Linked DNA regions of Homo sapiens: all the other regions are linked to region 1. The links come from fine-mapping of genetic effects on gene expression. A gene starts in region 1. Each other region holds a variant in brackets. All regions are shown on one strand. Distances are between the middles of the regions. Region 1 holds the start of TATDN3 (TatD DNase domain containing 3). Region 2 overlaps TATDN3 (TatD DNase domain containing 3). Region 3 has its middle 420 kb from the start of LINC00538. Region 4 overlaps ATF3 (activating transcription factor 3). Region 5 has its middle 46 kb from the start of VASH2.

Region 1 (6,141 bases):
GTCCCACTAAATAGGATATAATAGGTTAAGCCAAGTTCCTCTTTTTCTGTAAGACACCTAAATGTTTTAAATACCTTAGCATTTCCTAGAATCAGACAAATTCTAAGATTATACAACAAAAGTCTTCTCCCAAAAAACTACTAAAAACGTCCTGAGATATATCCCTATTCTTGCCTTGCTTGCAAGGAGGGAATGACGTAAGAGTCACTATATACAAAACTACATACAGAGTCACAACCCAGGAAGTGTTTCTTCATTCTTCCACTGAACCTTTTTTTTTTGAGATGGAGTCTCGCTCTGTCACCCAGGCTGGAGTGCAGTGGCGAGATCTGGGCTCACTGCAAGCTCCGCCTCCCGGGTTCACGCCATTCTCCTGCCTCAGCCTCCCGAGTAGCTGGGACTACAGGTGCCTGCCACCATGGCCGGCTAATTTTTTGTATTATTATTATTATTGTTTTAGTAGAGACGGGGTTTCACCATGTTAGCCAGGATGGTCTCGATCTCCTGACCTCGTGATCCGCCCGCCTCGGCCTCCCAAAGTGCTGGGATTACAGGCGTGAGCCACCGCGCCCGACCCCTTTTGCCTGTTTTAGAGTGAAAACATTTTCTTTACAAGACTAAAATAGGTTAAAAAAAATTGTGTTGGTTGAAAACTTTACTAAGATCATACATTTGCCTCTATACCACATTTCCCAAGCCTTTCTTAAATATTTTTGCAAAGCCCTGAAGGTGGTAGTTTTTTGGGAACACAAGAAATAAAGGGATTGTGTGCTTCCTTATAACAGGCACCAATCTACTTATATTAGCGGAAAAAATTTAAAAGCTCATAATACCGCACATTTGTGAGTTATGAATGACCACAGTGCAAACAGTAAAAATAAAGGTTAATAGGCCGGGCGAGGTGGCTCACGCCTGTAATACCAGCACTTTGGGAGCCCAAGGCGGGCGGATCACGAGGTCAGGAGATCGAGACCATGCTGGCTAACACGGTGAAACCCTGTCTCTACTAAAAACACAAAAAAATTAGCCGGGCGTGGTGGCAGGCGCCTGGAGTCCCAGCTACTCAGGAGGCTGAGGCAGGAGAATGGCGTGAACCCAGGAGGCGGAGCTTGCAGTGAGCCGAGATCGCGCCACTGCACTCCAGCCTGGGCGACAGAGCGAGACTCTGTCTCAAAAAAAAAAAATAAAATAAAATAAATAAATAAATAAAACATGCAAAAGGAAAGATCAAATGCTGCTTGGGTGAATGGCTGACTTCCAGAATTACCCTTTCCAGGAGAATTCCTCATTGTCTGCGGCTGCATTGTCCAACAGGTGAGCCACTAGCCACTTTGTAGTTACTGAGCGCTTAAATGTAACTAGTTCGAAGATGTGCCGTAAATGCAGCACACCAGATTTGAAAAGCTTAGTACGAACAAAAGAATGTAAAATATCTCATTCATTTGATATTATTACATGTTAAAATACCTTGGATTTATTGGGTTAAACAAAATGTCTTATTTCCATTAACTTCACCTATTTCTTACTTTTAGTTTAAAACTACATAAAGATTAGCTTGCCTTGTATTTTCACTGGACAGCGCTGGTCTAAGTAATTAATAAGACCCAGCTGACATTAGCATCTATTTCTTTCTCCTCTAGCGTTTCTCGAACTGGTTCTACAGTAGCCTGGGGCACCGTTAATTCTGCCAAGGCCTGGCGTGGGATCTTTCTGAATCCTAAGATCCTGGGTGTTGGGTAAGAGGATGATGAGTAAAGAACTGGCTAACTGGTCCCGTACCCACTGCGCATCTCGCAGAGCGGGCTCCCGAATCTCCTCCGGCAGAGCGTCCCCGAGCTTTTGCACGAAGCGGCCGCACAGTTGTAGCATTTCGGTCACAGCCCGCTTCGAGGTGCAGCGCACCCGAAAGTCTTCTCGGGGAGTGGCGGAGACCAAGGCCTGGCTCTCTGTGCCAGCCGCGAGCTCCTTGTCCCATGGAGGGTCAAGGACCACCAACTCAGGAGACCCCGCCATTTTTCGTCGGAACTGTGGGCGGGGCACTCTGGGAGCGGAAAAGCGGGTTCACACTGGTGTAACCAGCATGCATCCGGCTGGAAACTCAGGACGCTGCAGCTGAAACGTTCCGGCTCCGGCTCTGCTGGCCGGTCTAAAGCGGCAGCCGCCGGGGCGCAATGCGAGCGGCTGGCGTAGGCTTGGTGGACTGTCACTGCCACCTCTCCGCCCCGGACTTTGACCGCGTATGTGAGGGCGATACGGGACCAGAGGGAGCAGGGAGGCCCCCGTCCTTTCCCCTCGTGTTATCTTTGCTCTCCTCCCTTGGGACGAAACCCCATATCCCCCGCCCAGACCCTTGTTTATGGCCATATGACCTTGCCCCTCATTTCCCTATTCCCTATTTAACCTCAGACATACCGATTTTTTTTTCCTGATTCAGTAGCGGTAAGCTATCTCCACAAGGCTTTTGTTTGCTCTTCTGAGTTCCTGGAATCGTTCCCTCACTCCCCTTGGCTGGCCTGTTTTTCCCCTCGGGGCTCTCACCTCCTGGCTGAGATGCCACTCTTTGTGGGAAGCGGTCCTCGAAACGCGTTCAAATCGGGGAGAGGTCGGGCGCGGGCTCACGCCCGTAATCCCAGCACTTTGGGAGGCCGAGGCGGGCGCTGCGCATCTCCTGTGTCCAGGAGATCGTGACCAGCCTGGGCAACATGGTGAAACCTCGTCCCTACAAAAAAAAAAAAAAAGCCGGTGATTGTGGCGTTTGCCTGTGGTCCCAGCTACTCGGGAGGCTGAGGTGGGAGAATCGCTGGAGCCCAGGAGGTGGAGGTTGCAGTGAGCTGACATCAAGCCACTGCACTCCAGCCTGGGTAACAGTGAGACCCTGTCTCAAAAAAAAAAAAAAAAAAAAATTCACAAATGGGGGAGAGAGGCAAACAAACAAACAAAAATACATGGCCGAGTGTGGTTGCTCACACTTGTAATCCTAGCACTATGAGAGGCCGAAGTGGGTGGATCGCTTGAGCCCAGGAGTTTGAGACCAGCCTGGGCAATGTGGTGAGACCCCGTCTCAATTAAAATAATAATACACACGTAAAATCAGTTACAAACTGTTTTACCCATTACGTGGGAAACTAGAGACTAATAATAGAGGATTAAGGGGGGTTTTATTTCAGGGGGAAATCCTCCCAGGAGCTGACACTTAAGGCTGAAAAGACAAGGAGCCACCCAAGCAAGGGGGTGAGTGTATGCTGGTTAGGGAAACAGATAGGTTGCAGGCCCCCAGACAAGCTAGAATTTGGCACATTTCAGTTGCCAAAAAGCTAAGTGGAGCCTGATGAGCTAGAAAGAGAAAGGCATGAAACAAAACTGGGGAGGTTTGCAGGGGATAGATGAGGTGGGTCAGTAAGGAATTTGGATTGCATTTGAAGCACAATGCAGATTCATTAAAGGGCTTTTTTAAAATTTATTTTCATTTTTTTATTTTTTTAGATTGAGTCTGGCTGTGTCCCTCAGGCTGAAATGCAATAGCATGATCTCAGGTCATTGCAACCTCCACCTCCTGGGCTCAAAAAATTCTCCTGTCTCAGCCTCCCAAGTAGCTGGGATCACAGGTGTGTCCCACCACGCCTGGCTAATTTTTTGTATTTTTAATAGAGACAGAGTTTTGCCATGTTGTCCAGGCTGGTCTTGAACTTCTGGCCTCAAGTGATCAACCCTCCTTGGCCTCCCAAAGTCCTGGGATTACACAAAAATGGATAGGCATGATGCTATCCATTTTAACACCATTTTGCTGCTGTATGGCAAATGGGTGGAGGAGAAGAGTGGAAGCTACAAGACTAGTTAGGAGGCTTTTGCAGTATATAGGCAAGAGATGTTGGCTGTTGGTACTATGATGATAGCAGGTGAGTTTGAGATGAATACATGGATTCAAGATACATTTTAGAGAGAGAATCCACAGTAAGTACTGAAGAATTGGATGTGGATAGCAAGGGAAAGGGAGGAGTCAAGGATGACTCAGATTATTAGCTTGTGCTATAGGGAAGATGGTGGTGCTGGTTTACTGAGATAAGGGAAGACCAAGGTCTGAGGTGGAGGTGGGGAGGTCAGCAGAAGGAATAGGTTTGTGGGGAGAAAATAAAGATTTATGTTTGGGGCATATTGGGAAACCTAATCCCATCCAAATGAAGATGTCATAATTTTTAAACATGAGTCATGGGCTCAGGAGAGAATTACAAGCTAAAGATAAAAATTGGGGGCCGGGCGCAGTGGCTCATGCCTGTAATCTCAGCACTTTGGGAGGCCGAGGTGGGCAGATCATAAGGTTAGGAGATCGAGACCATCCTGGCTAACATGGTGAAACCCTGTCGCTACTAAAAGTACAAAAAAATTAGCTGGGCATGGCAGCATGTGCCTGTAGTCCCAGCTACTTGGGAGGCTGAGGCAGGAGAATGGTGTGAACCCGGGAGGCGGAGCTTGCAGTGAGCCGAGATCGTGACACTGCACTCCAGCCTGGGTGACAGAGCGAGACTCCATCTCAAAAAAAAAAAAAAAAATTGGGGACTCAGGCTGGGTTCGATGGCTCACACCTGTAGTCCCAGCACTTTGGGAGGCCAAGGTGGGTGGGTCACCTGAGATCAGGAGTTAAAGACCAGCTTGGCCAACATGGTGAAACACCATCTCTACTAAAAATACAAAATTTAGCTGAGTGTGGTGGCGGTCACCTGTAATCCCAGCTACTCTGGAGGCTGAAGCAGGAGAATCACTTGAACCCGGGTGGCAGAGGTGGCAATGAGCCGAGATCGCACCATTGCACTACAGCTGGGAGACAAGAGTGAAACTTCATCTCAAAAAAAAGAAAAAAAATGGGGGCCTCAGCATAATGATGATAAAACCATGAGAGGAAGTGAAATCACTCAAGGCAAGTGCAGAGAGAGGAGCAGATGTTCTTGAAGTCTGAAAGAGGAAGGGGAGCTAGTCAAGGAGACTGACAAGTAGCCACCAATGAGAGAGTGGTATTGCAGAAGTGAAGGGTGGAAAGCATTTCAAGAAGGAAGGAGTAAGCAAGTGAGGGATTCCGAATGCTGCTGAGGAGTAGAGTAAGATGAGGACAGAGAAATACCCTGTATATTTGACAATAGAGGCTTCTGTTTTAGTGCTGGGAACAGTAGCCAGACTTTACTGATAGTAAGAGTAAACAGGAAGTGGGTCAGTGTAGGCTCTTTGTTTTCCACCACTCCATTAGTTGCTATCATTGTTATTTTTTGTGATGCCACAACTACATTGACATATACAGTCCAAGATTAGCTGCTTATTCATCTAAAATAATGGTGATTTCTTATGCTTGTTTTAGGATTTGGATGATGTGTTGGAGAAAGCCAAGAAGGTAAGTCAATATTTGTAATTGCTCTTTTGGTTTTTTATTTTAACTATCATTTCAAGCCAAAACAGCTTGAAATTTAGATATACTACCTTGATGTTTCAGTAGTTTATAGTAAGTAGCATTTTTTATTTTTATTATTTTATTTATTTATTTATTTATTTATTGAGACAGAGTCTCGCTCTGTCGCCCAGGCTGGAGTGCAGTCGTGTGATCTTAGCTCACTGCAACCTCTGCCTCCAAGGTTCAAGTGATTCTCCTGCCTCAGCCTCCTGAGTAGCTGGGACTATAGGCACACGTCACTGCACCCAGATAATTTTTGTATTTTTAGTAGAGACAGGGTTTCACCATGTTGGCCAGGCTGGTCTTGAACTCCTGACCTGAGGTGATCTGCCCACCTCGACCTCCCAAAGTGCTGAGATTGCAGGCGTGACCCACTACGACCAGCCAATTTTTATTATTTATAATTAAAATAGAGACAAGATCTGACTATATTGCCCAGGCTGGTGTCAAACTTCTGAGCTCAAGCAATCTACCCACCTTGGGCTCCCAAAATGCTGGGATTATAGGCATGCGGCACTGCTCCCAGCCTAAGTAGCATTTATTAAGTGTTTGCTACATGCCAGGTAGTGAGCTAAGGCCTTTCTCGACTTTACCTCATTCAATGTTTCACAATAGCCTTCTGAGGAAATTACTAATTTATAGCCAATCATTCCCCATTTTTATAGATGAGGAATCTAAGGCCTAGAGATGAGTAACTGGTCCAAAGA
Region 2 (6,142 bases), 19 kb after region 1:
AGAGGAATAAAGTCATGAAAAGAAATGAAGTACTGAGTCATGCTACAGCATGGATGAACCTTGAAAACATTATACTAAGAGAAAGCAACCAGACGAAAAACCACATCTTGTATTATTCCATTCATGTGAAATGTCCAGGTGAGGCAGATCTATAAACACAATATAGATTAGTGGTTTCCAGAATTTTGAGGGGAAGGATAATAGGGAGTGACAGCTAATGGGTATGGGATTTCTTTTTGGAGTGATGAAAATATTCCAGAACTAGATAATGGTGATGATTGTACAATTTTGTGAATATAGCAAAAAACACTGGATTGTGTACTTTTAAAGAGTGAATATTATGGTTATGTGAATTATAGCTTTAAAAATTAAAAACTAGGCCGGGCGCAGTGGCTTATGCCTGTAATCCCAGCACTTTGGGAGGCCGAGGCGGGCAGATCACGAGGTCAGGAGATCGAGACCATCCTGGCTAACACGGGGAAGCCCCGTCACTACTAAAAATACAAAAAATTAGCCAGGCATGGTGGTGGGCGCCTGTAGTCCCACCTACTCGGGAGACTGAGGCAGGAGAATGGCGTGAACCCGGGGGGGCAGAGCCTGCAGTGAGCCGAGATCGCGCCACTGCACTCCAGCCTGGGTGACAGAGCGAGACTCCGTCTCAAAAAAAAAAAAAAGAAAAAAGAAAACCATCCACAACCCAATCTAAAATTTAAATTGGGCTAGGCACTGTGGCTCACACCTGTAATCCCAGCACTTTCGGAGGTCAAAGCAGGCAGTTCACCTGAGGTTAGGAGTTCAAAACCAGCCTGGCCAACATGGTGAGACCCCTTCTCTACTAAAAATACAAAAATTAGCTGGGTGTGGTGGCGCATGCCTATAATCCCAGCTACTCAGGAGGCTGAGGCAGGAGAATCACTTGAACCCAGGAGGCAGATGTTGCAGTGAGCTGAGATCGCGCTTCTGCACTCCAGCCTGGGCGACAGAGACTCCATCTCAAAAATAAATACATTAATTAATAAAAAAATAAAATTTAAATTGCATAAGAACCTTAGATTTGGGCCAGGCACGGAGGCTCATATCTGTGACCTCAGCACTTTGGGAGGCCAAGGGTTGCGGATCACCTGAGCTCAAGAATTTGAGAACAGCCTAGGCAATATGGCGAAACCCTGTCTCTACAAAACATATAAAAATTAGCCGAGTGAAGGCAGGGCGCGGTGGCTCACGCATGTAATCCCAGCACTTTGGGAGGCCAAGGCGGGTGGATCACGACGTGGTCAGGAGATCAAGACCATCCTGGCTCACATGGTGAAACCCCGTCTCTACTAAAAATACAAAAAATTAGCCGGGCATGGTGGTGGGCGCCTGTAGTCCCAGCTACTTGGGAGGCTGAGGCAGGAGAATGGCGTGAACCCGGGAGGCGGAGCTTGCAGTGAGCCGAGATCGCGCCACTGCACGCCAGCCTGGGTGACAGAGCGAGACTCTGTCTCAAAAAAAAAAAAAAAAAAAAAAAAAATTAGCCGAGTGTGGTGGTGTGTGCCTATAGTCCCAACTACTTGGGAGGCTGAGGTGGGAGGATGTCTTCAGCCCAGGAGATGGAGGGTCCAGTGAGCCGAGTACGTGCCACTCCACTCCAACATGAGTGACAGAGCCAGACTGTGTCTCAAAAACAAACAAAACCCTTAGATTTATAAACATAAAGCTTTGAGTGCCTTAAAGTGGATGTTAGAAAGAAACACTGAATGTGATGAGGGTGGAGAAACAACAGAAATCACTTCCTTGTCAATGTCGGCACATGATACCAGATGTTTGGATTTCTGCTTGCTGGGTATACCTCATTTTTGCTATGGTTACTATTCTTTGGTTTCCCTAGAAGCTTTGGATAATTTTTAGGAATTAGTGTTTATATTTTAACATAACTTTTAGTAGTGGAATTATGAGAACATCCAGTTAGCATTTATCAATTGAATTGTTTTTTTGAAGCAGAGTCTCACTCTGTCGCCCAGGCTGGGGTGCAGTGATGTGATCTTGTCTCACTGCAATCTCCGCCTCCCAGGTCCAAGCAATTCTCCTGCCTCAGCCTTCCGAGTACCTGGGATTACAGGCGTGTACCACAATGCCTGGCTAATTTTTGTATTTTTTTTTTCCACTCTGGCTAGGCTGGAGTGCAGTGGCGCGATCTCAGCTCACTGCAACCTCTGCCTCCCGGGTTCAAGTGATTCTGCCTCAACCTCCCGAGTAGCTGGGATTACAGGCAGCCACCACTACGCCCGGCTAATTTTTGTATTTTTAGTAGAGACGGGGTTTCACCATGTTGGTCAGGCTGGTCTCGAACTTCCAATCTCAAGTGATCAGCCTGCCTTGGCCTCCCAAAGTGCTGGACAGGTATGAGCCACCACCCCGGCTTAATTTTTGTATTCTCAGTAGAGATGGGGTTTTATCATGTTGCCCAGGCTGGTCTCGAACTCCTGGTCTCAAGTGACCCACCCACCTCAGCCTCCCAAAGTACTGGGATTACAGGCGCGAGCTACCACAACCGGCCTATCAGTTGAATAGTAAAAAATAATTTTTTTTTGAGGCGGAGTCTCGCTCTGTTGCCCAGTCTGGAGTACAGTGGCGTGATCTCGGCTCACTGCAACCTTGCCTGGCTAATTTTTGTATTTGTATTTTTATTTTATTATTATTATTATTTTTTTTTTGAGATGGAGTCTTGCTCTGCTGCCCAGTCTGGAGTACAGTGGGGTGATCTCGGCTCACTGCAACCTCCACCTCCCGGGTTCAAGTGATTCTTCTTCCTCAGCCTCCTGAGTAGCTGGGATTACAGGTGCCTGCCACCATGCCTGGCTAATTTTTGTATTTTCAGTAGAGATGGGGTTTCACCATGTTGGCCAGGCTAGTCTTGAACTCCTGACCTTATGTTCTGTCTGCCTCGGCCTCCCAAAGTGCTGGGATTACAAGCATGAGCCACTGTGCCTGGCAATTTTTGTATTTTTAGCAGAGACGGGGTTTCACCATGTTGGTCAGGCTGGTCTTGAACTCCTGACCTCGTGATCCACCCGCCTCGGCCTCCCAAAGTGCTGGGATTACAGGCGTGAGCCACCGCGCCCAGCCTAAAGCATAAATTTTAAGTTATTGCAGAATAAAATGCATTATTAGTATGTCAATTTAATGCTCTTTATCTTTATTTCTCATGTTTTAAACTTAGCTGCTTTCTCTTTTCTCTAAGAAGCAGAAACTTGTGAAACAATTGCCTTTAACTTCTATATGCTTAGAAACAGATTCACCTGCACTAGGACCAGAAAAACAGGTAAATGGTTTTCTAATTTCTATATTATTTAGATTGTATCTTTCATTTGAGTTCTTTTCAATTTAGCTGTATTTCTCATTATAGTGTAAATACAGTGGAATCCTCATATACTGCCAGATTGAGGGCTTATATTAACTTTATTTCAGGTCTTTCTAAATATAGCTGTTGCACTCCAGAGAATATTATTTGATAATGAAGCATGTCCTAATGTATGTAATAATAAGAGTCAGACCAGTGTAGTAAAAAGCACAGTGTCTGCAGTCAGAAAGACAAATTCAAATCCTGTTATCTACCTAGTAGCTGACTTTGGGCAAGCTACTTAATCTCTCTGAAACTGCTTTTTCATTTATAAAATATGGGTAAAATAATAAATACATTAAAAGATTATGGTGGGCTGGGCACGGTGGCTCACACCTGTAATCCCAGCACTCTGGGAGGCCAAGGCGGGCAGATCACCTGAGGTCAGGAGTTCGAGACCAGCTTGACTAACATGGAGAAACCCTGTCTCTACTAAAAATACAAAAAAATTAGCTGGGCGTGGTGGCACATGCGCCTGTAATCGCAGCTACTCGGGAGGCTGAGGCAGGAGAATCGCTTGAACCCGGGAGGTGGAGGTTGCAGTGAGCCGAGATTGCACCATTGCACCCCAGCCTGGGCAACAAGAGCAAAACTCCATCTCAAAAAAAAAAGAAAAGATTATG[G/A]TAAGTATTACATGAAGTAACGTATGTGAACGTAACTAGCAGTATCTGGTATACAGTAGGTATTCAATGAGTGTTCATTTTTCTTCTTTTAATTAGCATGTTATAATGAAGTTCTATTTCTTTCAATACAAGTATTGATATAATCATGGGTTTATTTATATGATCTTTGCTGTTAGTATCTCTTTTTGTTATTGTAGGCCACAAAGAATCATATTTTAAATTTCACTCTCTTTCATATTGCTACTATTTTAAATTATAATTTTCTGAAAGTAAGCCACAGTATATGCTTTATTTGCTTTAGGCAGTACCTATTACAATGACCTCCCAATGTGCAGTTTAATAAGTGCCTTTGACTACCCATCAGATCTGTGTCTCTATGCCTGCCAAATTCAGAGAATTGGCACTCAAAATTTAGAGGTTTGGGAACAGTAGCAATTATTATCCGTTTATTCAGAAACTATGATTATATGTGATTGCAATGTGAATTTTACTAACTGATGTTCAATTAATGTTTCTATTTTTATTTTCTTTCTTTTCTTTTTTTTTTTTTTTTTGAGACAGGGTCTACTCTGTCACCCAAGCTATAGTGCAGTGGCGTGATCACAGCAACCTCGACTTTCTGGGTTCAGATGATTCTCCATCAGGCATGTGCTACCATGCCTGGCTACTTGTTTTTGTTTTTGTTTTTGTTTTGTTTTTGAGACAGAGTCTTGCTCTGTCGCCCAGGCTGGAGTGCAGTGGCGCAATCTCAGCTCACTGCAACTTCCGCCTTCTGGATTCAAGCAATTCTCCTGCCTCAGCCTCCCTAGTAGCTGGGATTACAGGCTTGTGCCACCACGCCCGGCTGATTTTTGTATTTTTAGTGCACATATATTTCATAAAAACAGGATTAACTTGGACATATTATTTTATAACTGATCTTTATGTGGTAAACCTCTGTATATATATTTTTTTTGTTAATTTTTTTTTTAATAGAGACAAGGTCTCACTATGTTGCCCAGGCTGGTCTCAAACTCCTAAGCTCAAGTGATCCTCCCACCTCGGCCTTCCTAAGTGCTAAGATTACAGGTGTAAGCCACTGCACCTGGCTGAACCTCTGTATATATTAATAAACATACTTTTCTTCATCATGTTTAATAACTGCATAATATTCCAGTATGTGAGTTTACCATATTTAACTTGCTATTGGTCATCTAGATTGTATTATAAACAACATGATTAACATAAATCTCTATGCCCATTTTTAATTTTTTTGGGCTACATTACCAAAGTGCATTTTAAAAATTTTAACAATAATGTTATTCTTCTGAACATTATCATCCTGAGTAGATACTTATTGATAGTAACAATAATAATTTATTTCATAAAATCTAAATGCTACTGATTGTAGAGGCACCATTGTTTACCATTGTTTTATGACCATTAAGAAAGAAAAAACACTGCCAGTTATACTATGAAATACCACTGAATCTAAATGAAATATACTGTATCAATTTCAGAGATGTTAAAATAGGAGAGGAAATGCATCTTAGAATCAGTGAAATGCCAGTACATAATCTATTTCATCTTTCCAATACATGTTGGCAATTCTTGAATCAAACTGTCATGTAGCCTGTGAGGTAGGCGGCCAAGCAGCAGAGCAGTGACCTTTTACAAGCATTCACCTAAGCAACAAACCAAAGGACAATTAATCCATTAGTCAGGCAGGTTACCAGGTGTTCACTGTTTGCAGACTGCTTCATGTGCTAGGAGCTAGGGACTTCAATTGTAAATACCCCAGGGTTCTTTTCAGGAGCAGCACAGATTTACAATCAACATTGCAGCCACACCTCCCTCCCAGCCCTCATCCCCACCTAAAAAGAAAAAAATTAAAAAGGAGCCCATCAGTTGTTTTTACCAACTCATTTTCTTCTATCTATAGTCTCCAAGGATCTGCTTCCCTTCAGTGTCATGTTTGACATGGTGTCTGCTGTCTTGTTTCAGGTACGGAATGAGCCCTGGAACATTTCTATTTCAGCAGAATATATTGCCCAGGTGAAAGGGATCTCAGTGGAAGAAGTTATAGAAGTGACGACACAGAATGCATTAAAACTGTTTCCTAAGCTCCGACACTTGCTCCAGAAATAGCTTCAAAACC
Region 3 (6,259 bases), 710 kb after region 1:
TGTGTTATTCTTTTGTTTTGCTGGAGCACATCCTCAAGTAATTGCCTAGTACAGGGTGTGGGAGATAAACTTTTAGAGTCTGCACATCTGAAAATGTAACACTTACTTAACAGTTTAACTGGGTATTAAATTCAATTTCCCTCAGAATTTTGAAAAGTATTATCTTTTCTATTATTTTGTATCATTTAGTGTTGCTTTTGGAAAATTTGATGCCAGTTTTATTCTTATTTCTTTGTGGGCAACTTGTTTTTTTCCCCTCTCTCTGGAAGCTTCTAGAATCTTCTAATAATCTTTAGAGATCTGCAAAAATGAGTATCTAACATAAAATTTCTTATTTAGGAAAGGAGGGGAGGTGCCCTTTTCCCATTGTAACTTGTCTGATATGATGCATAGCATCCATCTGCTTTGTGATGTTTACCTCATTCCTAATCCTATGAATCAGAGTTAGGGCCAAAGCCACTAAGTTCCCCACAACCCCCATCTATGGGACCCAAGATCTGGGTCACTGGAGTCTATCAATGAAAGCCCAGTGTTTGTCACTTACCTAGCCTGTGGGGCTTCGTTTCCCTTCACCCTGTCACTGTACGATATCCACTTCCACTTACCCCAAGTATCCCCTGAGATCCTATTCTATGTTCCATGAATGCACCTCACTCTCTCCAATTCAGGACTGATTCCAGCTATAGTCAGGCTCTTTCAGTTTCAGGGAGAAAAAAAGAACCACCCAGACTACCGTGGGCAGAGGGAGGTGGGTAGGTCTGAGGATTCTTGTGTGTTAGAACTGAATCTCTGGCCAAAGGACCTCTTGAATGTGTTATTTCCCTATCATAGGACACACAACCTCTCTTTGATGGTGCCTGTGCTGCCTTAGGGCCAGATTGTCTGGATTCGAATCCCAGCCCTACCACGTGCCAGCTATATGACCTTGGGCAAGCTGCTTAATCTCTCTGTGCCTCTGTTTTCTGATGTGGAAAATGGGGATAATAACAGAACTTCAGGTTTTTGTTGTGAGGATTGAGTTAACACATATAACAGATTGAGCACACTGGCTGACACATCGTAAGTGCTCAACAGCAATATCTAACATGCCAGCATGTACACAGCATTTACCATGGGCCAGATGCTGTTAGAGGTGGAGGAACCAGCCCAAGGTAACACTGCTAGGAAAAGGACAGGCTGGGGTTCAGACCTGGGCAGGGTTCAAGAGCCTGGGTTCATGCTCTTGACCACTTCACTCTACAGTTGTTTTGGTTTCTCTACCTCATATTTCCTGCCTTCTATCTAACTGTGACTTGTTTTGATCATTCGTGGTCCTTATCTACTTCATGGCTTCTCTCTTTATGCATGTTTTCTGTCTCTGGCTTCACTATCAAGTGCCTGATTTTTCTTAAAGGGAGAGAGAGTGAGAGAGAGAGACTCAGTTTCTGTTTTGTGTCAGGCCATCCTGTAGCTTATTGGCTGTCATCTGCATTTGTTTGTTGTCCTTGGATCAGGTGCCCACACTTCTATCCAGCTGGAGCCAGAGTGGGGTAGAGAGTTGCTACTTCAACAGTAACTGTGACTGGGGTAAATTCTCTCAGAAGGGGCTCTGAGGGCAAGATGGTGCCATGCTTGATGGGGACCATCTTGTACTACAGTATAGACTCTTGGCATTGCTGTCCTTTCTTCTGAAAATGAGTCTCCTACTTTTGTACCTGGTTTTGAATTGGTAAGTAACGAGATGAAGGAGATGGATTTTGTGCATGGAAGAATGCTGATAATGGTCTTTAAAATTTCAGGATGTGGTTGTGATGGAAACTAAATTTTAGGGCGACACCCATACCAGATGAGATTAGTTATTTGCAGAAGCAACACCATGTTTTAATAGATTGGAGATGCCATGATTGTCCAAACTCTCTCACTAAGTATCAGACTGTATTCTCAGAAAGACAGGTTTGACATTAAATAACAATCATTGAAAGTTCATTTAACTTTTCACTCAGTTACTCATTCAACATCTATGGGTCACCCACCAGGTCTAGCAGAGGGTGGAAGATGACCCCTATGACTTGTGCATGTGAGTCACTAAAAAAGGAGTGAGAATATAAACGCCTCTCTGTTTTTACTCAACCCAGTCAATCCAGGAGATAGAGAAAGAGACAGAGATGGAGGGAGATCTGAATATCAATGTATCAATGTCTGGTAATTATTCTTGACCATCAATATGATGATTCTTAATTAGCTAGCTAGTTATGTGGTTTTGATGCTATAACTCAACGACATTGTGGCCTTAGATCAGTCCCTTATATTTAAAAAGGAATAATAATTCCTGGGGGATTTTAAAAGAATTAGTGATAATAGATGTCTGGCTTGGTGCCTGAGTGCTATTACTTTTAGGCAGCATTTTCCCTGGAGTGGAAAGTGGCAATTCATCCCATTCCTTTTGCTCTTACTTTATGTTCATTAAGCAACTTTCTGACACATAATTTGCTCCTCTGAGGCAATTATTCCAGGAGAGAGTGTTCTGAATGACCAATGTGAATGATTCTGTAAGATGTATCTCCCCTAGTAAATTGATAAATCAATGAACGTATCAGCATTCTGGTTGGCAAATTAGGCTCCTGCTAATTTGGTTACATGAGTAACTTCCACAAGTACAACCTATTCCAAGTGAACAGGTTCAGTCACATTTTAGGATCCCCACATTTGAGGACTCGAGTGGCAGCTAACACTTGCCAGGTACTACCAACCCGCAGGGCCAACCTGAGCACGCAACCTGCCTGGCTCTGGCACTCCTACCTGAAAAGGGACCATTGTGTTGGCAGCGCAGGGTGGGGGGCTGAAATAGAGAGACCCTGGGAGCAGATGCCCAGGTTAGGCCTCTTGCAGTTGACCTGGGTAGAGGTAAAACTGGCCTGAACTCAGGTGGTAGCAAGAGGCATGGAAAGAAGGAAAAGGACAGATGCAAAGAAAGTGGCGCAAATTGGAGATAGTTTAGCAGCATAACTTTATACAGTCTGAGATGATTCAGGTCAACCCTCTCATTTTTTTTTTTTTTTTTAACCTGTGAAGCATGAAACTTATCAGGTGCCTGTGGTCCCATCCACCGCTCAGAGCCCTGGTGGACACACTGCATTGCGGGCCTCCGGAATGGTTCTATTACAGCATTGAGTGTTTTGATCAAACACATTGCACAATAGCTGTCTCAAG[T/G]ATGCCCAGGCATGGCTTGAGCTATGGATACATATGCTGAGTGTATTAATCAAGTTTAATAGACCCCAGTGTCTGAAACAATGCCTTAAATTCTTTTTTCAGAAACTGCACAGAAGTGCAGCATTGTACAGCAAATAAAAGTGTTGCTACAATGCCTGTAAATCAGAGCTTTAAACTATGTTTCAATTATCCTTCTATTATCCAGCTGGTATTTAAGCATGTTTATTATTCAAATCAGCAGCGAATGTGCTGCTGTTGTGTAAACAACTGTCAATTGCTGAAACAATGATTAGGAGGCACCATCCCTTTCAGGTGTACTTAGCGGTACTTATACCCCAGCCACTTGTATTTAAATATCATGTAAACACAATGCTTGAGTGACTACTTTCACTCCTGTTCCCAATGCCTCATGCCAATTCTATTACATTAAGAGGGAAATCTATTAAATTTTTCATTGATACACATCCGTACACTGTTTTTACCCATTGTATCATTAAGGCTTGGATTAATATAATAGATATGCTGAGAGATACAGTGTGCATTGAAAAAGCCTGTTCAAAATGAAAGCCAATTTCTCTGCATTATTTGGGGGTGTTGGAAGGCTTTTGTGAAAACAATGCAAAGAAAATGATTTTCTGAATAAAAAGCATGACATGGAGAAAAGAAAAATTTGGCCCCCAGAAAGAGCATCTTGAACCTTTATTAGCTCCATTACCAATTCAGCACAGAAAAAAGTGGAGAGCCAGAAAATAGGACATTTGTAAAATGAAGCTGTGTTGCTTTTGAAAGTTCTCTGCCATCACCAGTAAGGGGTTTGTGTGTGTGTGTGTATGTGTGTGTGTTGGGACTGGAGTTTGTGGGTGATGGTTGCTGGGCAGAGCTTGAATTTGCTTCTAGGCTATGCTCCCAATAAGTTTTTCCTTTTTTTCTTAAGCCTCAATTTCCACATATAACCCAGGAAGACAATATTTTAAGTACAGTAGTTTTGTAAATAGTGAGGAATCATTATCTGGTCAAATGATTGACACCACCAGGGTTTTCATGTTAACCTGAGGTGTGTCTTTTGGGGGCTCAATAAATTGTTGTTGATTGGTCTCAGTTGCTAATCTGCAAATGGTATCTACTGTGTTTAGCAGGTGGATGCTGGAGAGAAAAGGGCAATGGCAGGATCTTGACTTGAGATTAGAACTTCTAACTCGGTGAATTCATGGATAGTGGCTTGAGTACATAGTAGAACCTCCCAGGTGGGTTGTAAAAAAGCTGTGCCTCATCCTTGGAGGTGATGTCATGATGTCCAAAATACTGCCTTCTAATTGATTTTGAAATACAACAAATTCCAGTTCTTTAGAATCTATAATATGTAGGGTGACCATGTAATTTATCACACAATTTGGGACATTTTGGTAGTAAGGTGTATTTAATAATTATGCTGGGACATCAGATGTAAACCAGCACTGTCCTGGGCAAGCCAGTACATACGATCACCCTAAAATCACATGGCTAAAGACCAAATCTGGGTATTAAGGCAAGGAAGGAGAATGAAAAACTAGCCCCTTGGGGGTTCTGTCTTTACCTGTCTTTTGAGGTTGGTCATTGCTTTATCTTTAAAGAAAGAGAGTTGATCCTTTTTTTTTTTCTTCTAAGAATTAGAATCCAGAAAGGCAAATAAATTCCACTTTTATAAAATACTATAAGCGGAAATTCATTTGTACATATTAAATTAGTAAATGGTCGTTCAATTTTCAAAATAATTATTCTGTAATGAAAAGGCTTCCCTGACTCCTAGCTGGCAACCTGTTTTTGTATGGGATTTAATTTCTTCAAGGCTTACCTAGAGGGTGTCTGTTGAACAAATGCGAAGTCTTTACACTTCACATAACTTTAATTTCTTAGCAGCGACTTGGGCTCAGTCAACAGAGTCAAATAATGACTCTTGGAATGTACACATGTAGAATTGAACCAAGAAATGCCAATTCTTAGGTATCAAAGGGTAAGCAGTACCTTCATTAATACATTTTATAATGTTCTCCCCTGCAGCAGACACAAACTTTAATGCTAGCATATGAAAATAATTTTCGTGTGTTAGATAACCAGTTTTTATACCAGTATCCTGTGATTCTTGCAGCCATTTTTATCTCTTTTATTATGTCCATAGATGTATCTCTTTTATTGAAGCACATGCTCTGAATTTCTTTTTCATTGAATGAAGATGAATGTCAGTAAGTTTATACATTTATCAAACAGCAAGATATCTGGTCTCTTTCCCATCTGGGCAGACTGATTCTCACAGCTCTGTCTCCAGTATCTTTGATTGCCTGTTTTCTAACAACTTCTTGGGTTCCTACCTACAATAGGGTGCTAATTCATTTACTGGAGGACTAATTGCTGAGGGGATGGTGGAAGAGCATCATTGTGCCTTTTCATGTAATGCACAGCAGCCAAAGTAGGGGCCTGCTTCAATTGCATGCTCTGTTGTCTCCTAAGCCCCAGGCATTACCTGTGCCTGTCCTTAAATAAGTTTTCCTCCATTATGTACTTGTAATTCCTGGTACCAATCACCAGATCCGGAGTACTTCCAGTAAGCCCTTCAGTGTCCCCAAATGCCTGACTTCTTTTATCCAAAAGTTAGATCCACTTTTATCTTTGTCATTTAAGCTCATCTGATGGAGGTTAAGTACTGTGTAGTTTGTTTTTGTTGTTGATAAAACACTGATAGAGTTTCCATGGAGGTATACTCTATACCCCCTAACTTCATATTGTGAAACTCCAGGCAGGGTTTATTGGCCAAATCATAGGCTATAACGGGCTAGTTGTAAAAATAACTCCTTGGTTTTGCAGTTACTGAGCAATATAAATTGTGGCTGCCAATTATTCTGTGCCTGTCTCTTTAATGGGGTTTAGTGGCTCTGTGAGTCTAGTTTGATCCTGCACTCACGGTCTCCAGTTCAAGTCCTGTTTTCTCTAGGAAACCATTTCACTGTTTGACTCTACCCAGATCCTCCCTGAATTCGTAGGAGCCGCAGTTTGTCATGTCCAATTCTTTTACTTAACCGTATTCTACCATTATTGA
Region 4 (6,259 bases), 170 kb before region 1:
GTTTCTTTTGGATTTTACAGGTAGCCCCTGAAGAAGATGAAAGGAAAAAGAGGCGACGAGAAAGAAATAAGATTGCAGCTGCAAAGTGCCGAAACAAGAAGAAGGAGAAGACGGAGTGCCTGCAGAAAGTGAGTGCCTTCTAGCCTTACCCTTCCTCTCGCTCACGCCTGTCTTCACCAGCTTCATGTGGCTATCAGAAGAAGAGTTAGAAAACCCCCTACTTGGTTATAGTTTCCCAAGAAGGGCCTTGTAGCTGGTAGCAGAAATGCCAGTTGCAGAATGAGGAGGTGGCAAAGCAGTTAACACAATGGATGTGACGGTGGATGTATAAAAACAGGTGTGTGAATTCGTCTGATGCCTGACTCCCAGCAGCCTCGGCCGGTTCATACATGTCCATCAGCTTCCAGGCTGCAGGACATGCCAGCCCAGTTAAAGAGGCTTCACTTGACTGTTTTCCTGAGAAAAGGAAGCTGCCAGCTCTCATTTGGCTCACTATGAAAAGCCTTTAATTAATCTCTTCAAACAAGTTATTTCCTTAATCCACAAGCAGTGGTTACACTTGCTTTGCATTCTTGTCTGGTTCCTAACTCTAGAGCCCTTCTCCCTGGCTTAGCCAGTAAGCTGAGCCCCTGGCTGCGTTCAGCCGGCCCGCCTGAGAGACACTAGGGGAAATAGCTTTTGTGGGCAAGCAGGGTGGCCGGTGGTGCTCAGCAGTCTTTCCAGTGGCTGTGTCCCTCCTCCAAATGTGGACAGGCCATGACAGAGTCTTAGCCCAAGTCCCACAGATCCCCAAAAGTTCTGTTGATTGCTTCAGGGGATCAGTGAAAATTAGGGAATTTTGTGTGTTGCTATATACATTTTTTCTGGGGAGATGAGCTTCTCATTGAGATCTGTGACTCAGAATCGACTAAGCCACCATAAGTCTGGATTTCTCCCCAGCTCCCAAGGCCCTTTTGGGTCCAGAAGACCTGCATATGGGCTGTTGACTCATGCAAATGAGGTATCTGAACTGCAGCTTCAGTATTAGCAGAGCCACAGGCCGCCTCTGTGGCATCACCAGGGTTTCTCTGAAGAAGAGGGTCTGCATTTTCCTAAACCCAGTGCTGCTCTCCCATCTCCCATCTTCCTCTCGCAGCTTGATGAGCCCCGGTGTGTCCCAGGTACACCCCTGCATCCAGGCAGCAGCCCAGGCCACCCCCTCCTCACTGGCCCTTGGCTCCTTTCTTGATGCCTCTGTTGCTTGTCCCCCAGGAGTCGGAGAAGCTGGAAAGTGTGAATGCTGAACTGAAGGCTCAGATTGAGGAGCTCAAGAACGAGAAGCAGCATTTGATATACATGCTCAACCTTCATCGGCCCACGTGTATTGTCCGGGCTCAGAATGGGAGGACTCCAGAAGATGAGAGAAACCTCTTTATCCAACAGATAAAAGAAGGAACATTGCAGAGCTAAGCAGTCGTGGTATGGGGGCGACTGGGGAGTCCTCATTGAATCCTCATTTTATACCCAAAACCCTGAAGCCATTGGAGAGCTGTCTTCCTGTGTACCTCTAGAATCCCAGCAGCAGAGAACCATCAAGGCGGGAGGGCCTGCAGTGATTCAGCAGGCCCTTCCCATTCTGCCCCAGAGTGGGTCTTGGACCAGGGCAAGTGCATCTTTGCCTCAACTCCAGGATTTAGGCCTTAACACACTGGCCATTCTTATGTTCCAGATGGCCCCCAGCTGGTGTCCTGCCCGCCTTTCATCTGGATTCTACAAAAAACCAGGATGCCCACCGTTAGGATTCAGGCAGCAGTGTCTGTACCTCGGGTGGGAGGGATGGGGCCATCTCCTTCACCGTGGCTACCATTGTCACTCGTAGGGGATGTGGAGTGAGAACAGCATTTAGTGAAGTTGTGCAACGGCCAGGGTTGTGCTTTCTAGCAAATATGCTGTTATGTCCAGAAATTGTGTGTGCAAGAAAACTAGGCAATGTACTCTTCCGATGTTTGTGTCACACAACACTGATGTGACTTTTATATGCTTTTTCTCAGATCTGGTTTCTAAGAGTTTTGGGGGGCGGGGCTGTCACCACGTGCAGTATCTCAAGATATTCAGGTGGCCAGAAGAGCTTGTCAGCAAGAGGAGGACAGAATTCTCCCAGCGTTAACACAAAATCCATGGGCAGTATGATGGCAGGTCCTCTGTTGCAAACTCAGTTCCAAAGTCACAGGAAGAAAGCAGAAAGTTCAACTTCCAAAGGGTTAGGACTCTCCACTCAATGTCTTAGGTCAGGAGTTGTGTCTAGGCTGGAAGAGCCAAAGAATATTCCATTTTCCTTTCCTTGTGGTTGAAAACCACAGTCAGTGGAGAGATGTTTGGAAACCACAGTCAGTGGAGCCTGGGTGGTACCCAGGCTTTAGCATTATTGGATGTCAATAGCATTGTTTTTGTCATGTAGCTGTTTTAAGAAATCTGGCCCAGGGTGTTTGCAGCTGTGAGAAGTCACTCACACTGGCCACAAGGACGCTGGCTACTGTCTATTAAAATTCTGATGTTTCTGTGAAATTCTCAGAGTGTTTAATTGTACTCAATGGTATCATTACAATTTTCTGTAAGAGAAAATATTACTTATTTATCCTAGTATTCCTAACCTGTCAGAATAATAAATATTGGAACCAAGACATGGTAAACATGTGTTGTGCTGGTTTCTGTTCATTTAAATCTGTCGGTTGCTGAGACCTAGCGATTCCCTGCCTTTCCCTCCCCATTATGGGGGGTGCCTAGCTTTAAACTTCTCCAGATGTCATCCTTTGCTCTTTGGGGCATCACTAGATGGGATAGTTGGCTTTCAGTCCTGTTCCTCA[G/C]TCTTGGGCACCTGATGCTCAATTTTTCATTGACAAACCCTGAAACATGGCACCAAATATATCCTTTAGATCAACAGTTTGGTGTTTAGAATTTTGATGTACAACTGAATTGCTAGATACCTTAATTATTTTCTCTGAATGTACAAACACCTAAAACATACACCTGTTGTTCAGCTTGAACCTTTGACCCCTAACATTCTGCCACAGAACTCGTCTCAGAGAGTTACTCACTTGAGTTACATCTGTTTCATGTCTAAACGTGTGTCTCATTGTTGCAAATACATATCAGAAAAGAATGGGAAGGGGTACCGGAGGAAGAAAGAACCATTTTAGACAGCATGGGTGTGATAATTCAAAGAAAGACATTCCACTGAATTTCCTGGAATTTCCAGGGCGTATGATTCCTTTGGCCTGCAAGAGAGCCAGGCCCCCTTGCTTTTTGTGCTTCTCTATAACATTCACAGGCTAGACATAAAAACTGGCCACTCGCCGCTGGTGCCATTCTTCAGAGAAGAATGTCTTCGTTAAATGTCAGATTCGTACACATGAATTCTGTGCCTACTTCTTTGACCTCATGTATGTTTCCTTTAAATGATCACTTAAGACACAGGTGTCTTCATTTTACTCTCTGAATTGCACATCAGGGGTCTTTCCTAATCCATCAAGAGCCATCTGATGTTAATACCATTCAGCACTTCTTTCAGGGGATAATTTATGTTCCTTTTCTTGGTGGAGGGGAAAACATCCCTTGCATTTACCTTCTAGTTATGGGTAGAGGCACCAGCCACCAGCCATTATGAAACGCAAGACAATTTGTAAGCTGCCAGGAACAACAATGGATTAGAGAGGAAGGAAGTTGGGGGCGGATGGTGGCTATGGCAAGAAAACTTGATGTGTATGGTAAGTGTAAATGAAGGTCTATCACAAATGCATTAAAAATTGTTTTATGTAGCCAAGTTTATGTTTTGATACTTTAATTTTAAAAAGGATGATGACTATGCATTTACCATCAAGGCATTTAGTTTCTTTTGTTTCACATTTAGAGGAAAGGGAAGGTGGGGGGATCTGAGAGAATAAACTTAGATGGGGCCACCACCAATATCAAGCACCCGGTTTGGCAGTGTCTGCACTGAGCTGTCTCCTGTTGGTAGTGGTGATGTCACACTGCCAGGGTGTGGAAAGCCACCCTCCCTCCTCTCTCTTGCCTTCCACCTGCCCCTTTGGCTTTCCCTGAGAGCTGGCCTGACACCTGTTTCAGAGTCAAGAGCTTTTAAAGGGTTCTGGCCCAGGACAGGAGTTCTGGAATGGAATCTTTCCACTTTCTGTTAACTAAAATACTATTTTCCATCTGTATCCTAATTTCTCCCCATGGGCTTTGAATAAACCCTCAACACTCCAACCCATATCAAGCTTTCTCCTCTCTTCCCTGTCCCGTAACCTCTGGTTGGGTTCATGTACTGTTTCTTTGTGGCGTGAACAGCGTTTCCAATTAGAATCTGCCTGAAAGGAGGTCCCATTTGCCCACTGAGCATCCTGTGTTCTCATGGTGGCTCTAACTCCAGAAGATTTTAACACAGTCTCATCAAACACTGCTTTCAGGGAGGAATTTACACTGAGGTTAAAAGGACTGTTGAGGACTAATGCTAACAGAAGCTAACATTTATTGCGTAGGACAATACACTAAACACTTCACATGTATTATCCCATTTAATCCTCACAACAACTGCTACCCCCATTTTACAGATGAGGGAGTGGAGAGCTCAGTAACTTGCTCGAGGTCTCACAGTGGATCTTTCCAAAGCTGAAGCCTATGCTTGTTTTCAACAGCAATGATTTCAAACAAGAGTATATACATTTGTGTGTGTGTGCGTGGTAAGATATACAAAAAATTTGCCATTGTAACTATTTTGAAGTGTACAATTCAGTGCCATTAAGTACATTCACAATGCAGTGTAACCATTACTATCTAGTTCCAGAACTTTTTCACTGTCCCCAAAGGAAATCCTGTACCCATTAAGGAGTCACTCTTCATTCCCCTTCCTTCCAGTCTCTGGCAACCACTAATCTGTCTTCTGTTTCTATGGACTTGCCTGCGCTGGATATTTTATGTAAATAGCATCATACAATATGTGGCCTTTCGCACAATACGGCTGGCTTCTTTCACTTAGCATAATGTTTTCAAGTGTCAGCCTAGCGTATTATGTAATAGTACCTTATTTCTCTTTATGGCTGAATAGTATTCTGTTGTATGGATACTATACTTTTTGTTTATCCATTCATCAGTTGATAGACAGGTGTGTGTATGTTAAGAAACAGCTAGCCTTTATCTTCAAGAACTGAATCTCTAAGGTAGGATTTCAGGCCTGATGTCAAGCTGGGAGAAAAGAGAGTTGGAAGCAGGTGCTCCTTTTCAGGACTTCCAGGTAACAGCTTGGAAATTACTTATTCCTGGGCTCGCTCTGTGGGCATGGCAAGGCAGGAGGTATAGTAGCACCTGTTCCCCATGGATGTAAATGGCTTCCAAAGTACTTCTGCATAGTAGAGAGGTTAGTAGAGGAGGGCCTTTGATAGGCTCCTGGAATGTAAGCTCACACTTTCCATCCTACCCTCTTCTCCCGGCATTTCACAGGGTAGGGGGTAAGAAGAGGCACGGGGCAAACACTGGGGGCCTTGAGAAAATATTTGGGCTCCCTGACACAGGATGTTGGTATAAACATGATGGAGGAGAAATAGAGGTGGCCCCTTGGATAATTTAATCCCCCACTCAGCCCAGCCCCTTTCTGAAGTGGTTGTCCTGGATTCTCCATAACATGCATGCATACACACACACACACACACACACACACACAGAATTAATTATGCAACTTATTTGGCTTGCCCAAGCTTTTTTTGTAAGTTCTGTAGTGGTTCAGAAGGAAGATTTTAAAAGCAGCAAGACCTGTATTCAAATAATACCTCCACTGCCTACGAGTTCTACAAATGCAGGTATGTTTCACAACTTCAGGTTTTTTTTACCTGTAAGATGAGAAGCGTTGCAATAGTATCAAACTGGAATGGAGTTTGATACATAGTATGGCGCCTAGAAGAAGCAATCTCTCATGTTATTATTAAAGGTTGAGGTTATTACTAAAGATTTCCATTGTCAGCATGAACTGAGATTTTATGGAAGAGTGGGCTAAGAACCAAGACTGCGAATTCTAGGTTAAAAAAAAATTTAAACCGTGTACTCAAATGGTTCAAATTTATCCCATCATCTTGCGTTCCTGTAGACTCTGCCTAGTTGCTGAATCTTTTGAATTTGGGGTGAGGAAGGGGAAGCAACCACACATTTTCTCATTTGAAAAATTTTTATTTTGGCACCCACTTGAGTACCTGGCACGGTGGGGCTGTCCTCTATGGGGGCAATGGAGTATTAG
Region 5 (6,259 bases), 110 kb after region 1:
TTCAAGCTGAAACAAAAGTATGCTAATTTTAATGCTAATATGAAAACATAAAAAGGTATAAAACTCACTGGTAAAGATACGTATATAGTCAAAATCAGAATATTCTAATACTGCAGTGGTTATGTGTAAATCATTTTAACTCGTGTATAGGCTAAAATAAAAATATTAAAAATAACTAGCTTTGGTAATTCATTAATTGATACACAATATAAAAGGATGAATATTGTGACAGCAAAAGCATAAAATGGCGTATAAAAGTGTAGAGTTTTTGTGTGTGAACAAAGTTAAGTTGCTATCAGCTTAAAATAGACAATAAGATGTTTTATGTAAGCCTGTTTTAACCACAAAGCAGAAACCCGTAGTAGACACACACAGATAAAGAGAAAGGGATCTAAGTATACTACTAAGGAAAATCATCTAATCACAAAAGACAGCAAGAGAGGAAGAAAAGGACAAAGGATCTTTAAAACCGCCAGAAAACAACAAAATGCCTGTAAGTTCTTACCTGTCAATAATTACTTTAAATGTAAATGGGTTAAATTATCCAATCATAGACATAGATTGGCTAAATGGATTTAAAAACCAAACTGTATGCTGCTTACCAGAGTCACTTTAGCTTTAAAGATATACATAGGCCGTAAAGGGATGGAAAGAGAGAATCCATACAAATGGAAACAGAAATAGAGCAGGGTAGCTTTATTTATTTATTTATTTTTGAGACAGAGTCTCACTCCACCCAGGCTGGAGTGTAGTGGCATGATCTCAGCTCACTGCAACCTCCACCTCCTGGGTTCTTGTGATTCTCATGCTTCATCCTCCCAAGTAGTGGGGATTACAGGTGTGCACCACCACACCCATCTAATTTTTGTATTTTTAGGAAATGGAGTTTCACTGTGTTGGCCAGGCTGGTCCTGAATGCCTGACCTCAGGTGATCTGCCTGCCTTGGCCTCCCAAATGTTGGGATTACAGTTGTGAGCCACTGCACCTGGCCAGGGTAGCTATATTTAAATCAGACAAAATGGACTTTAAGTAAAAACTTTGGCCAGGCATGGTGGCTCACGCCTGTAATCCCAGCACTTTGGGAGGCCAAGGCAGGTGGGTTACCTGAGGTCAGGAGTTCGAGACCAGCCTGACCAATATGGTGAAACCCCATCTCTACTAAAAATACAAAAATTAGCTGGGCGTGGTGGCAGACGCCTGTAATCCCAGTTACTCAGGAGGCTGAGGCAGGAGAATCGCTTGAGCCTGGGAAACAGAGGTTGCAGTGAGCTGAGATCGTGCAACTGCACTCCAGCCTGGCCAACAGAGTGAGACTCTTGTCAAAAAACAAACAAAAAAAACACCTAAAAAACTTTAACAAGGGACAAAGAAGACTATTATATAATGATAATGGAGTCAATTTTTTTTTTTTTTTTTTTTGAGACAGAGTCTCGCTCTGTCGCCAGGCTGGAGTGCAGTGGTGTGATCTCGGCTCACTGCAACCTCCGCCTCCCAGGTTCAAGCAATTCCCCCTGCCTCAGCCTCCCAAGTAGCCAGTACTATAGGCCTGCACCACCATGGCCAGCTAATTTTTTGTATTTTAGTAGAGACGGGGTTTCACCACATTGGCCAGGATGGTCTCGATCTCCTGACCTCATGATCCGCCCACCTTGGCCTCCCAAAGTGCTGGGATTACAGACATGAGCCACTGTGCCTGGCCTTAATGGGGTCAATTATTTAAGAGGATCCAACAAGTTGTGTGTGCATGTGTGTGTGTGTGCCAACAGTGGACTACCTAAAATTATGCAAAGCAAATATTAACAGATCTGAAAGGAGAAATAGCAGTAGAATTAATAGGGGATTTCAGTACCCCACTTGCAACAATTGATAGAACATCCAGCCAAAATCAATAAGGAAACATTGGATTTGAATTACACCTTAGACCACATGGACTTAATGGACATATATTGAATATTCCATCCAATAGCAACAGAGTACACATTTTCCTCAAGTACACATGGAACATTCTCCAGGATGGGTCATATGTTAGGCCCAAAAGAATGTCTTTAAAATACATTTAAATAAGAAATACAATTGAAATAATCATATATTCCTTAAGACATAATATCATATTAAGCAACTTCTCTGATGCTTACAATGATAGGAAATTACACAATTACATATTATTTCACAATGATATGAAATTACCCACCAATAGAAAGAAAACTGGAAAATTCAAAAATATGTAGAAATTAAACAACAGATTCTGAACAACTAGTGAGTCGAAGAAATCAAACAGGAAATCAAAAAATATTTTGGGACAAATGAAAATAGAAATACTTTCTATTTCCATTACCATATCAAAACTGATGGAATGCAGCAAAAACAGTTCAAGGAGGGAAATTATAACAATAAATGGCCACATGAAGAAATATCTTAAATAAATCACCTAACTTTACACCTGAAGGAACTAGACAAAGAAGAACAAATTAAGCCCAAAATTAGTAGAAGGAAGTAAATGACAAAGATGAGAACAGAAATAAATGAAATATAGACTAGAAAAATAATAGAAAAGATCAGTGAAACTAGGAGTTGTATTTTTTGAAAAGAAAAACAAAATTGATGAACCTTAGAGTAAGAAAAAGAGAAGTCTCAAATGAAATTGTAAATGAAAGAGGAGATATTACAACTGATACCACAGAAATACAAAGAATCATGAGACTATTATGAACAATTGTACTTCAACAAACTGGATAACCTAGAAATTGATAAATTTCTATAAACATACAACCTACCAAGACTGAGTCATGAAGAGATAGAAAATCTGAGTATACCAATAACAAGTAAGTAGATTGTATCAGTAATCAAAAATTGTCCGTAGAAGAAAAACCAAAGTCCCAGTGGCTTCACTGGTGAATTCTACCACACATTCAAAGAAAATAATACTAGTCCTTCTTAAAGTGTTCCATAAAATTTCAGAGGACGAACACTTCCAAACTAATTGTCAGCATTACCCTGATACCAAAACCAGTCAAGGACATTATAGAAAATAAAATTACAGGCCAGTATCCCTGATCCTCCACAAAATACTAGCAAACCAAATTTAACAACACATTAAAAGGATCATACACTATGATCAAATGGGATTTATCCC[A/T]GGGATATAAGGATGGTTCAACATATACAATTCAATAAATGTGATATACTATAAGGGTAAAAATTATATAGTCACCTCAATAGATGCAGAAAAAGTATTTGACAAAATTCAACACCCTTTCATGATAAAACCTCAAAAAAAAAAAAAGACATAGAAGGAGCTTAACCTCAACACAATAAAGATCATTTATGAAAAGCCCACAGCTAACATTATACTCAATGGTGAAAAAGCTGAAATCTCTTCCTCTAAGATCCAGAACAAGGCAAGGAGGTCCACTCTTACCACTTCTATTTAGTAGGACTGGAAGTTCTAACATGAGTAATTAGATAAGAAAAAGAAATAAAAGGCATCCAGACCTGAAAGGAAGAATTAAAATTGTGTGCAGATAACATGATCTTATGTATAAAAATCTCTAGAGATTCTATGAAAAAACATTTAAAAATAAATTCAGGAAAGTTGCTGGATACAAAATCAACATATGAAAACAGTTGCATTTCTATATACTAATGAACTATCTGAAAAACTAAGCAAAAAATTTCATTTACAATAAGATCAAAAAGAATAAAGTACTCAGAAATAAGTTTAATCAAGGAGGTGAAAAATCTGTACAATGAAAACTATAATGCATTGATGCAAGAAATTGAAGACAAATTAATGGGAAGATATCCCAAGTACATGGATCAGAAGAATCAATATTGTCAAAATGTCCAACTACCCAAAGCAACCTTAAGATTAAACACAATTTCTCTCAAAATTCCAATCGCATTTTTCATAAAAATAGAACAATCTTAAAATTTGTGTGGAACCTCAAGAGAACTTGAATAGCTAAAGCAAACTTGAGAAAGATCAAAGTTGTATCACACTTCCTGATTTCAAATTATATTACAAAGTTACTGTAATCAAAACGGCATGATACTCTCATAAAAACAAACTAGGCCAATGGAACAGAAAGCCCAGAAATAAACTCATACATACACTGTCAATTAATCTGTGACAAGAATACACAATGTGGAAGGGATAGTCTTCAATAGATACTGTTGGGAAACCTGGATAACCACATGCAAAAAAAAAAAAAAAATGAAATTGGATTCTTATCTTACATCATACACAAACATCAACTCAAATGGATTAAAGACAGGGCAGGTGTGGTGGCTCATGCCTGTAATCCCAGCACTTTGGGAGGCCGTGGTGGAAGGATCACTTGAGTTAGGAGTTTGAGGACAGCTTGGGCAACATAGTAAGACCTCGCCTCTACCAAAAAAAATTTAAAAATTAGCCAGGTATGGTGGCACACGCCTGTGGTCTCAGCTACTCAGGAAAGCTGAGTTGGAAGAATCTCATGAGCCCAGGAGGTTGAAGCTGCAGTAAGCCGAGATTGCACCACTGCACTCCAGCCTGAGTGACAGAATGAGACCTTATCTCAATAACAACAACAACAACAACAAAGACTTAAATATAAGACCTGAAATCATAAAATGTAAGGAGGAAACATAGGCATTGATGAGCAATGATTTTTTTTTAATATGACACCAAAAACAGAGACAGCAAAAGCAAACATAAACAAGTGGGACTAAACTTTTAGCGTAGAACAGCAATTTTGCCCGCCACCACTTTTGCACCATCATTGCAAATGTCAACATAGTGAAAAAGGTATATAACTTCTTTGTATTATTATGAAAAGAGTTTGGACATTATGGATTCCCTGAAAAGGGTCTTGCTTCTAGAAAGGAGAAACTGGCTATCACTACATTGATCAATGATTCACAATGCCAGAATATGGAGAGAATAAAGAGTAAGGGAGGATCAAGGATCAAAGGCCTCTAATTAAAGGAGGTAGGTGGAACATAAAGAGTTAGTGGAGACAAAGAAGGAGCCTAAGGGAAAGACAGGCAGAAGATTTAGGGTGGTTTTATTAATGAGACCAAAGAGAAGAGAATTGGTAGCTGCAAAGCAAGATACTACCTCTGTGTAAACGAAGAGTTATAAAAAGCTGCTACTACCATCTGTTGTCATGCCATTTAAATTATAATTAGTATGATATTTCAGGATAAAGTTTCCAGCATTATTTAGTTTTACAAACAGCTAAATATTTGAGGCAAAAGCCATGAAACTGTTTAAAATATAAAATAATAACATGGCATTTTATCTGTTACCGGCTACCCTATAAGAAATAGGAACTTTAAAATCTAAGACCTTTCTCAGATCCCATTCAGAATCACTAAAATTTACATTTAGATTTTCAGTGGGAAAAACTACTTCCATCCAGAAAAAAAGATACTCTTTATTTTCAATAGCAGGCGAAGAAATCTAGGTAAGTAACACATTTCTGAAGTCACCTCTTTCCTGTAAGCCACCTGTTAGTGTCAGCTTCTTGTCCTCACCACACTGCCCCTCACTTTCTGCAGGAAGAGTTGGTCAAACTAATAGGTGACATCCCGCCCTGAAGTAATTTCAGGGCCCTTGACAGGATCCCATGCCTGGAAGATGCCTTTATGACCTTTCACCGGAGATACGATATTTTTGGGTCCCTAAAGAGAGAGAAGGTTTCAAAGCACACCAGACTACCAAGAGGGAATATCTCATCTTAAGTCTGATGGCTGTCCTGCAAGCAGGTTTGAATAGGAGGGAGGAGGAGATGGGGCTTGGAGGCCCTATAGCCTTGAGAAAGGAGAAAAGGACGGCACAGGAGAGAAATTTAGAAAGGACTCATTAAAATAAGACATATGAGCCTCATTTTCCATTTCGACAAGTGACGTATTAAGCCTTTGTTTTATCTTGTTATATGTACCCATTTGCACTTTTCCCTTTATCTTGATTATTTTAACCCGTGGGCGAAATGGTAACTGTAAAGAGAACAACCTGGCGGAAACCAGTGGAAACTTGATTTCTGGTTGGAGCCCATAGGTTTCGGTTGACAAATGCTGCTTGAGCATACCTCTCATTCCCATAATGAGGAAAACATTTGATTCTTCCAGGGATGAACTGGCCCCAAACTCCCTGAGATAAAATGATAAATTAGATTTTTATAAAGTTTCATAATGCATAAAAATTAAAATGAGGCTGAAATAGGACTGACAGTGCTTTCTTTTTCAGTGAAAAGGCTGAATCCTTCAAAACATACTTTG

What was found. PIP is the estimated chance that this variant, and not a neighbour inherited with it, causes the effect.
Region 2: its variant is fine-mapped to the expression of TATDN3 in whole blood (TOPMed, PIP above 0.99). The same link has a PIP of 0.9 or more in anterior cingulate cortex, atrial appendage, cerebral cortex, esophagus mucosa, fibroblasts and left ventricle.
Region 3: its variant is fine-mapped to the expression of TATDN3 in coronary artery (GTEx, PIP above 0.99).
Region 4: its variant is fine-mapped to the expression of TATDN3 in whole blood (TOPMed, PIP 0.92).
Region 5: its variant is fine-mapped to the expression of TATDN3 in whole blood (TOPMed, PIP 0.97).

The regions. Positions count from the first base shown.
Region 1 is chr1:212,789,751-212,795,891 of GRCh38, forward strand. TATDN3 (TatD DNase domain containing 3) reads left to right here and starts at 2,144. Exons shown (of 10, transcript NM_001042552.3): 1 at 2,144-2,237; 2 at 5,345-5,377. The coding sequence starts at 2,172. NSL1 (NSL1 component of MIS12 kinetochore complex) reads right to left here and starts at 2,027. Exons shown (of 6, transcript NM_015471.4): 1 at 1,780-2,027. The coding sequence starts at 2,013. RefSeq lists enhancers at 700-1,478, 1,953-2,232, 4,367-4,867, 4,746-4,815, 5,156-5,205.
Region 2 is chr1:212,809,025-212,815,166 of GRCh38, forward strand. TATDN3 (TatD DNase domain containing 3) reads left to right here. Exons shown (of 10, transcript NM_001042552.3): 9 at 3,224-3,304; 10 at 5,989-6,142. The coding sequence ends at 6,132. Among named protein-coding and RNA genes, the nearest start is that of TATDN3, 20 kb to the left of the region's middle. The variant G/A (reference allele first, on the strand shown) is at 4,006.
Region 3 is chr1:213,504,527-213,510,785 of GRCh38, forward strand. It overlaps a transcript of RPS6KC1 not described here. Among named protein-coding and RNA genes, the nearest start is that of LINC00538, 420 kb to the right of the region's middle. RefSeq lists an enhancer at 3,037-4,035. The variant T/G (reference allele first, on the strand shown) is at 3,190.
Region 4 is chr1:212,618,107-212,624,365 of GRCh38, forward strand. ATF3 (activating transcription factor 3) reads left to right here. Exons shown (of 4, transcript NM_001674.4): 3 at 21-128; 4 at 1,252-2,669. The coding sequence ends at 1,449. Among named protein-coding and RNA genes, the nearest start is that of GARIN4, 3.2 kb to the right of the region's middle. RefSeq lists a silencer at 3,521-3,815. The variant G/C (reference allele first, on the strand shown) is at 2,844.
Region 5 is chr1:212,901,705-212,907,963 of GRCh38, forward strand. No RefSeq gene overlaps it. Among named protein-coding and RNA genes, the nearest start is that of VASH2, 46 kb to the right of the region's middle. The variant A/T (reference allele first, on the strand shown) is at 3,135.